Homo sapiens: one gene and its partner. The protein of the gene in region 2 purifies or fractionates together with the protein of the main gene of each other region. This does not show direct contact. Each region holds a gene or a part of one and is shown on either strand. Other genes may lie near its edges.

What was found. The genes of interacting proteins can lie anywhere in the genome.
Region 1: the proteins of ENTPD7 (region 2) and SLC33A1 purify together in Homo sapiens (affinity purification with mass spectrometry; one large-scale study listed by BioGRID and IntAct). This does not show direct contact.

What each region holds. Positions count from the first base shown.
Region 1 is NC_000003.12:155,833,914-155,837,430, reverse strand, and holds part of SLC33A1 (acetyl-coenzyme A transporter 1), read left to right. Parts: intron 1-3,389; coding exon 3,390-3,517. UniProt on the Homo sapiens protein: Acetyl-CoA transporter that mediates active acetyl-CoA import through the endoplasmic reticulum (ER) membrane into the ER lumen where specific ER-based acetyl-CoA:lysine acetyltransferases are responsible for the acetylation of ER-based protein substrates, such as BACE1.
Region 2 is NC_000010.11:99,679,773-99,683,653, reverse strand, and holds part of ENTPD7 (ectonucleoside triphosphate diphosphohydrolase 7), read right to left. Parts: coding exon 3,779-3,881; intron 1-3,778. UniProt on the Homo sapiens protein: Catalyzes the hydrolysis of nucleoside triphosphates and diphosphates in a calcium- or magnesium-dependent manner. Preferentially hydrolyzes nucleoside 5'-triphosphates, with substrate preference for UTP > GTP > CTP.

The DNA.
Region 1 (3,517 bases), on a different chromosome or scaffold from region 2:
TAAGAGAGTTCTGATTTTAAGGAGTTTCACATCCTTGAAAACACATATATTATCTTTTTTTTTTTTTTTTTTTTTGAGACGGAGTCTCGCTCTGTCCCCCAGGCTGGAGTGCAGTGGCGCGATCTCGGCTCACTGCAAGCTCTGCCTCCTGGGTTCACACCATTCTCCTGCCTCAGCCTCCCAAGTAGCTGGGACTACAGGCACCCACCACCACGCCCAGCTAATTTTGTGTATTTTTAGTAGAGACGGGGTTTCACCTAGCCAGGATGGTCTCGATCTCCTGACCTTGTGATCCACCCACCTTGGCCTCCCAAAGTGCTAGGATTACAGGCGTGAGCCACTGCACCTGGTGTATATCATCTTTTTAATTTTAGCCTTTCTGGTGGTTGTGTAATGGCATCTTGTTATTGCCATAATTTGAATTTCCCTAATGACAAAAGAAATTGAGCATCTTTTCATGTGATTATTGACCATTTGAATATCCAAAGTTGCCCTTTTCTTTAAATTTGTAAAGTTGTTGTTTCTGTTTAGATTTCGTTGTTTGAGATGAGGTCTCTGTCACCTAGGCTGGAGTGCAGTGGCACCATCACAGCTCATTGCAGCCCTGACCTCCTGGGCTCAAGTGATCCTCCAACCTCAGTCACCCAAGTACAGGCATGTGCCACCACCACGCCCAGTAAATTAAAAAAAATATTTTGTAGAAAAGAGTTCTTACTATGATGTCCAGACTGGTCTTGAGCTTCTGGGCTGAAGCAATCCTCCCGCCTCATCCTCCCAAAGTGCTGTGCTTACAGGCATGAGCCACTGTGCCAGACCAAACTTTTTAAAATATATTTTGAATTTGAGTCTTTTATTAGATATGTGTATTACAAATATCTCCTACTATATAACTTTTAAGACTTTTTTAACATTTTAAGATTAAACATTAAAGTCAGTTTGTATGTCTTATTTTTACAAAGGGAATGAGTAAAATGTAAGTGAAATTATTTTCTGGACTTAAGTGAAATATATGTTACCTTTAATTTTTTTTATGGTGAAATTTTCTTTGGCTCTATTCCAAGAAGTTACCGTGTATACTATTTATAATTTTTCTTTCTTTCTTTTTTTCTTTCTTTCCTTTTTTTTTTTTTTTTTTTTTTTTTTTTTTTTTGACAGAGTCTCACTCTGTCACCAGGCTGGAGTGCAGTGGCGCGATCTTGGCTCACTGCAACTTCCACCTCCCAGGTTCAAGCGATTCTGCTGCCTCAGCCTCCTGAGTAGCTGGGACTACAGGCGTATACCACCACACCTGGCTAGTTTTTGTATTTTTAGTGGAGATGGGGTTTCACCATGTTGGCCAGGATGGTCTCAAATCTCCTGACCTCGTGATCCACCCACCTTGGCCTCCCAAAGTGCTGGAATTACAGGCATGAGCCACCGCGTCTGGCCTTATAATTTCTTTAAAAAAAAAAAAATTGTGTGATATTGAAGTGGCCTTGTGGTCTAGGGTAGTACCTGAGGTTTGCTGTCTCACAGCCACAGAGATCAAGGACGTGGACACACAAAGAGTGAGGTTAACAGCAGAAGTTTAGTAGGTGAGAGAGAGAATAGCTCTGTGCTACAGAGAGGTGTCCTGGAAAAATGTGTTGCCAGATCTGTGGTGAAATGCAAGGGGTTTTTTAGATGAGCTAGTGGGGAGGCAGTGTCTGTTTTAAATAGGGCATGAAAAACCGGTAAGGTCCAGGTGCACCATTTATATAGGGCATGAATTTCTGGCAGCCCCCACCCTAATTTTTTATCATGCAGGCAGGTTCTCTGCCTGAGCTGCACCATGTTGCCCATTTTTTTACTGTACACATGCTAACAAAAAAGAGAAGGTGGAGCTTTCATGGTGGACATGCCTGGCTCCCAGGTAGCCCTTTTCTGTTGGTTCAGCTGCTGGCATTCCCCCGTGCAAGCTTCCAGCTTGCTTATCTATGTTTGCAACTCAAGTTTTTCAGGCTGCTCTTCGTTAGAAAAGAAATGATTTTGGGGGCCGCTTTTTGTTAGAAGGGAAGCTCTGCCGAGGTCTCTTTTGCCCTCACTATCTGCCTAAATAATTTCTTTCTGCCTACTGTATCGATATAACTTCACACTTCTTGAAAATGTATTAGTAGAACTCCTTTATATCCTTTATCCAGATTATCTAATTATTAACGTTTAGCTACACTTTCCTTATTCTGTAGATGTTCTCTTTCTATGTATATCCATTACATATGTCTTCTGAAATACTTTAGAGTAATTTGTACACATTATGCACTTTTATCCATAAGTACCTTAAGTATGTATTTCCTAAGAACAAGTTTTCTGCTTACAAAACCACAACTCAATATTGGGAAATTTTAAATTGATATAATATTATTGTCTAATTATAGTCCATATCCAAATTTTACACAATAACAGTCCTTATAACTTTAATTTTTTTCTTGTTGGGGATCTAATCTAGGATCACACATTGCATTCAGTTGGTATGGCCTTTCATTGTCCTTAATATCCTTGACATTTTTGAAGAATACAGGCCAATTATGCTGTAGAATGGGCTTCTAGTTACATTTCTCTCATGTTTCTTCTTGTTTGGGTTGAGGTTATTCAGGTATATAAGACAGGAAGATCAAAGAAGTAATGTTTTGATGTCTGCAGGGAATTATACTGAAAGCCATATCATGTCTCTTTATCCCTTTAACTGCTGTTTTTAACTTTAATTGCTTTGCTAATCTATTGTAAAAGTACTATTTTTTCTTTTGTAATTAAAAACTGACTCATGGGGAGATACTTTGAGGCTATCTAAATAATCTTAATTTAATTCTTACTCTTTTTTGTGCTGTTTTAAAGAATTAATCTAACTATACTTTATCCCTTTCATTTTATTCAATCTCTCAGATACGTTTTCCCAGAATTACTTTTGAAACATTAGATGAACTTAGGAAATTTTATTATGGTCAGTCAGAAATCATTAAAAATGTATATATATATTGGCAGTTATGCTTCATTTTAACCAGATTGATTTGGGTCAATTAAAGGCTTAAGTTCTTTTAAACCTAAAACTTTCAAATTGGTAAATTTGGATTTTTGACCCCGTTTACTATAACACATTGGACTTTTTGAAGTGGAAATTTAGTTGTATTTATAGCCATCTACCATCCCTACCAGTACTGAATTTTCAGTTGTTTTCACTTAATATTATTAGAAAACCATAAGGCAAAATGTACCTCGTATAACTTGACTGTTGTACCAGGTATAATAATATGATGCTCACTTGTAACTGTCATGGGTCAGTAATAAAATTGAGGTTCTTGAAGAACTTACATATGCATGGAGGAAAATATTTCATAAGTCACGAATTAAAATACTTTTTTGTTTTTATATTGCAGATTGGTTTTTCAGCAGCAGATGCTGTAACAGGACTGAAATTGGTAGAAGAGGGAGTACCCAAAGAACATTTAGCCTTATTGGCAGTTCCAATGGTTCCTTTGCAGATAATACTGCCTCTGATTATCAG
Region 2 (3,881 bases):
TACATAGTGACAGGATAAAGCTTTCATCTTCTAAAATTCAATATTGTTTATTTATTTAAAATGCTTTTAAAATGGCGAAATGTTGATAATTGTTAAAGCTGGGTAGTGGGTAAATGGGGATTTACTGCACTGTTCTCTTTACTTTTATACACAAGTGAAATTTCCTAAAATAAAAATTATTATTTTATTAAACACCACCTTGTATTATGGTGTAATTTTTAAGGGATTTTTTTTAACTGCAAAATAAAAGGGAGGTAGAAAAAATTCTGTTAGTCCAGGCCTTTGGCAAAGAAATAAAACCAAATGCTAATAAATTCAAAATATAGTCTAAATGGTTCAACCCTATTTTGAATCTGCTTACAAATGCTAATAAATTAGCAAACCTTTAATCATACAAAACAGGTTCTTATACTGATAGTCACATTTATGCCAACAACTCGCTTGGACTTAGAGGCAGCAATGATTTTATAAGCCTAGAACAGATGTATGCATTATTTAGAGAGGTGACCAGAAAACAAGTTGAAAGAGAAAAAAAAAAGGCAAATTTCTTTAAAAATTCTTTAGATACAATAAATATTAATATTCAGAGTTTCCACATTGACAACTAACATCTTAGACAAAAAGGGTGGAGCTACACAGTGGGTTTTGTTTGGATGGAAACTTCTTTGACAGAGGTAATACCGAACAGTGCCAGGAGGTGAGGCAACAATCTCCTTTCCTCCAAACACACTAAAGGTAGCCAAACTACCAAGTGGGTTCCTCTGCCCAGCTCAGCTGGTCAATTCTGCCTTTTTAACCTCCAGGTCAGCTTTTTCTCTGGCCTCCCTCCCCTTTCCTTGGCCTTTTATAGACTTTGTGATGTGGCACCTGCTCTTGTGTCATCTATATTCTTCCCAGGGTTTCTAAAATTTTTGAACAATATGAATATCACCTATGTCAAATAAAAATTCTTAATTGCATGCACAGTATGATTGCAACTTTGTGGAAATTACATATATGTGAACAGAAAGGAGGGAATACAACAAAACGAAACAGTTTTGATAGGGTAGCAGGGTTGTAAGTTGTATTGTATTGTTTTGTTCATTTTTAAGATTTCCCTTAAGGAGTTAAGGCTGCAGTTACAATATTTAAAGTTTGGTTTTAAAGATAAGTAAAAACAAAACAAAAAATTTTTTAAAGACTGAAATGTATGGGGCAATAAGGAACTAAAAAACCTCTCATGTTGACAAATGGCTATATAAATAATCTGCTTCTCAACAGTAAACCAGTCAGTAAACCAGTAACTGTGAAAAAAAGTCCACTGAAAGAAGCATTGCTGCTATATGTTATGTTGTCTACATGTCTGACATAAGCCTTGGAGCCCTACATGTATGGCTGAGGTTTTTGTTGTTTGCTGTTGATTTAAGGAAAGAAAGCCAACTATAAAATTTAAACGTTGTAAAAAAAAAAAAAAACTGCTGTTGACCAAAGGAAAATATTTAAGCTAATAAGGAAATACCTGATGCCTATGAGACCATGAACATTCCAGGAGGATGAATTCTAAAGTTAAGGTTGGCAATGGTCTCATTGATATGACACCAAAAGGCACAGGCAACCAAAAATAAACAAGTAAGACTATATCAAACTAAAAATTTCTGTACAGTAAAGGAAAAAATTAACAGAGTAAAAAGGCAAGCTACAGAATGGGAAAAAATATTTGCGAACTATACCTTGGTAAGGGGTTTATCTTTAAAATATTTTAGAAACTCCTACAACTCAACAGCAAAAATCCTATTAACCCAATGTAAAAATGGGCTAAAGACTTGAATAGACATTTCTCCATTCACAGAAATGGCCAACAGGCATATGAAAAGTTGCTCAACATCCCTAGTCATCAGGGAAATGCAAATCAAAACCCCGATGACATATCACCTCACACTTGTCAGGATGGCTGTTATCCAAAAAACAAAAGACAACAAGTGTTGGCAGGGCTGTGGAGAAATTGGAAACTCTGCATACTGCTGGTGGGAATATAAAATGGTGCAGCAGCTCTGCAAAACAGTATGGAGGTTCCTCAAAAAATTAAAAATATAGGCCGGGTACGGTGGCTCACGCCTGTAATTCAGCACTTTGGGAGGCCAAGACGTGCAGACTGCTTGAGCCCAGGACTTCAAGAACAGCCTGAGCAACATGGCAAGACCCCATCTCTACAAAAAAAAATACAAAAAATTAGCCAGGCATGGTGGCACATGCCTGTGGTCCCAGATACTTGGGAGGCTGAGGTGGGAGAATCACCTGAGCCTGTGAGGTGGAAGTTGCAGTGAGCCGAGATCATGCCATTGCACTCCAGCTTGGGCAACAGAGCGAGACCCTGTCTCAGTAAATAAATAAATAAATAAATAAATAATCAAACTGTCATATGATCCAGCAATCCTACTTCTGGCTAATTATTCCAAAGATTTAAAATCAGGATCTCAAAGAGATATGAGCCCTCCCATGTTCACTGAAGCATTATTTACAATAACCAAGATGTGGAAACAACCTAAATGTTCACTGACAGATGAATATGTAAAGAAAACATGGTACATACACACAGTGGAATACTATTTAGACTTTTTTAAATAAAAAAGGGCATTCTGCAATATGTGACAAGGTGGATGAACACTAACGACAATATGCTAAGGGAAATAAATAGGCACAAAATTTCAGTTAAGCAAGATGAATAAGCACTGAAGATCCACTGTACAACACTGTACACACAGTCAACAATAACGTATTGTATACTTAAAAATTTGTTGGGCCAGACATGGTAGCTGACGCTTGAAATCCCAGCGCTCTGGGAGGCTGAGGCAAGCGGATCACTTGAGCCCAGGAGTTCTAAACCAGCCTGGGCAACATGGTGAAACCTGGCTCCACAAAAATTAGCTGGGTGTGATGGTGCCCACCTGTAGTCCCAGCTACTTAGGAGGCTGAGGTGGGAGGATCACTTGGGCCTGGGGGGCAGAGGTTGAAGTGAGCTGTGATCACACCACTGCCCTCCAGCCTGGGCAACAGAGCAGACCCTGTCTCTAAAAAAAAAGAAAAAAATCTGGTTAGAGGGTAGCTCTCATGTTGTATGCTTACCACAATAAAATAAAAATCATTAAAAAAAAAGTCAGGGAGCTCATTCTTCCCCCGGCCTACGTAAGTATGGACGGATCAAGGTGGTACCAAAGGAGAGAAATCACAAACAAGGAGTCTGGCCTAAATACAGCCTTCTCTTCCTCTTCCTCTAATGCAGGAAGAGGGATCAGGTGGCAAGGTGTCAGGCTGAATTGCAAAGGTCAAGTGGAAATGATGTGACTGGCTGGGGCTGAGAAAACAGGCCTAAGGCAATGGAGACTGAGCTTTGCAGTAGCAGCAAGAAGAGGGACTCCCCCAGTTATTGCCAGGGTTCTAGGCAGAGTTACAGAAAAGGTAGTGTTCCTACCAGAGCTCTCTGACTAGTCCCTAAGTATCCAGGTCATCAGGTGACCCTCTTCCTAATTTATTCTGTAATTATGTTCTCTATGTGCCCGATGATCCAAATCTATTACCATCACCACTACTCCCAACCCTCAATCCAAACTAAGAATCACTATAGTCATCCCAGATAGATACTGATCCCAAAGCAGCAAATGACAAGAAGTTGGGAATGAATGATTGTGTCATAATTGGGTTTAGGGGTATAGACCAGGGAACCACAGAGGACAGTGCATGAAACTGGCCTTTCATCTCTTGTGCCACCGTTTTCCTGTGTTTCCTGTACCCTGCATCTCACCTCTCAGGGAGAAGCCTCATGCCTGCTGTGCAGAGGATGTAAAGAGGGGTCTCCTTGTGCTTCTTCACAGGCACATGAGCAGCAGCAAAGCTCAGCAGAGGAC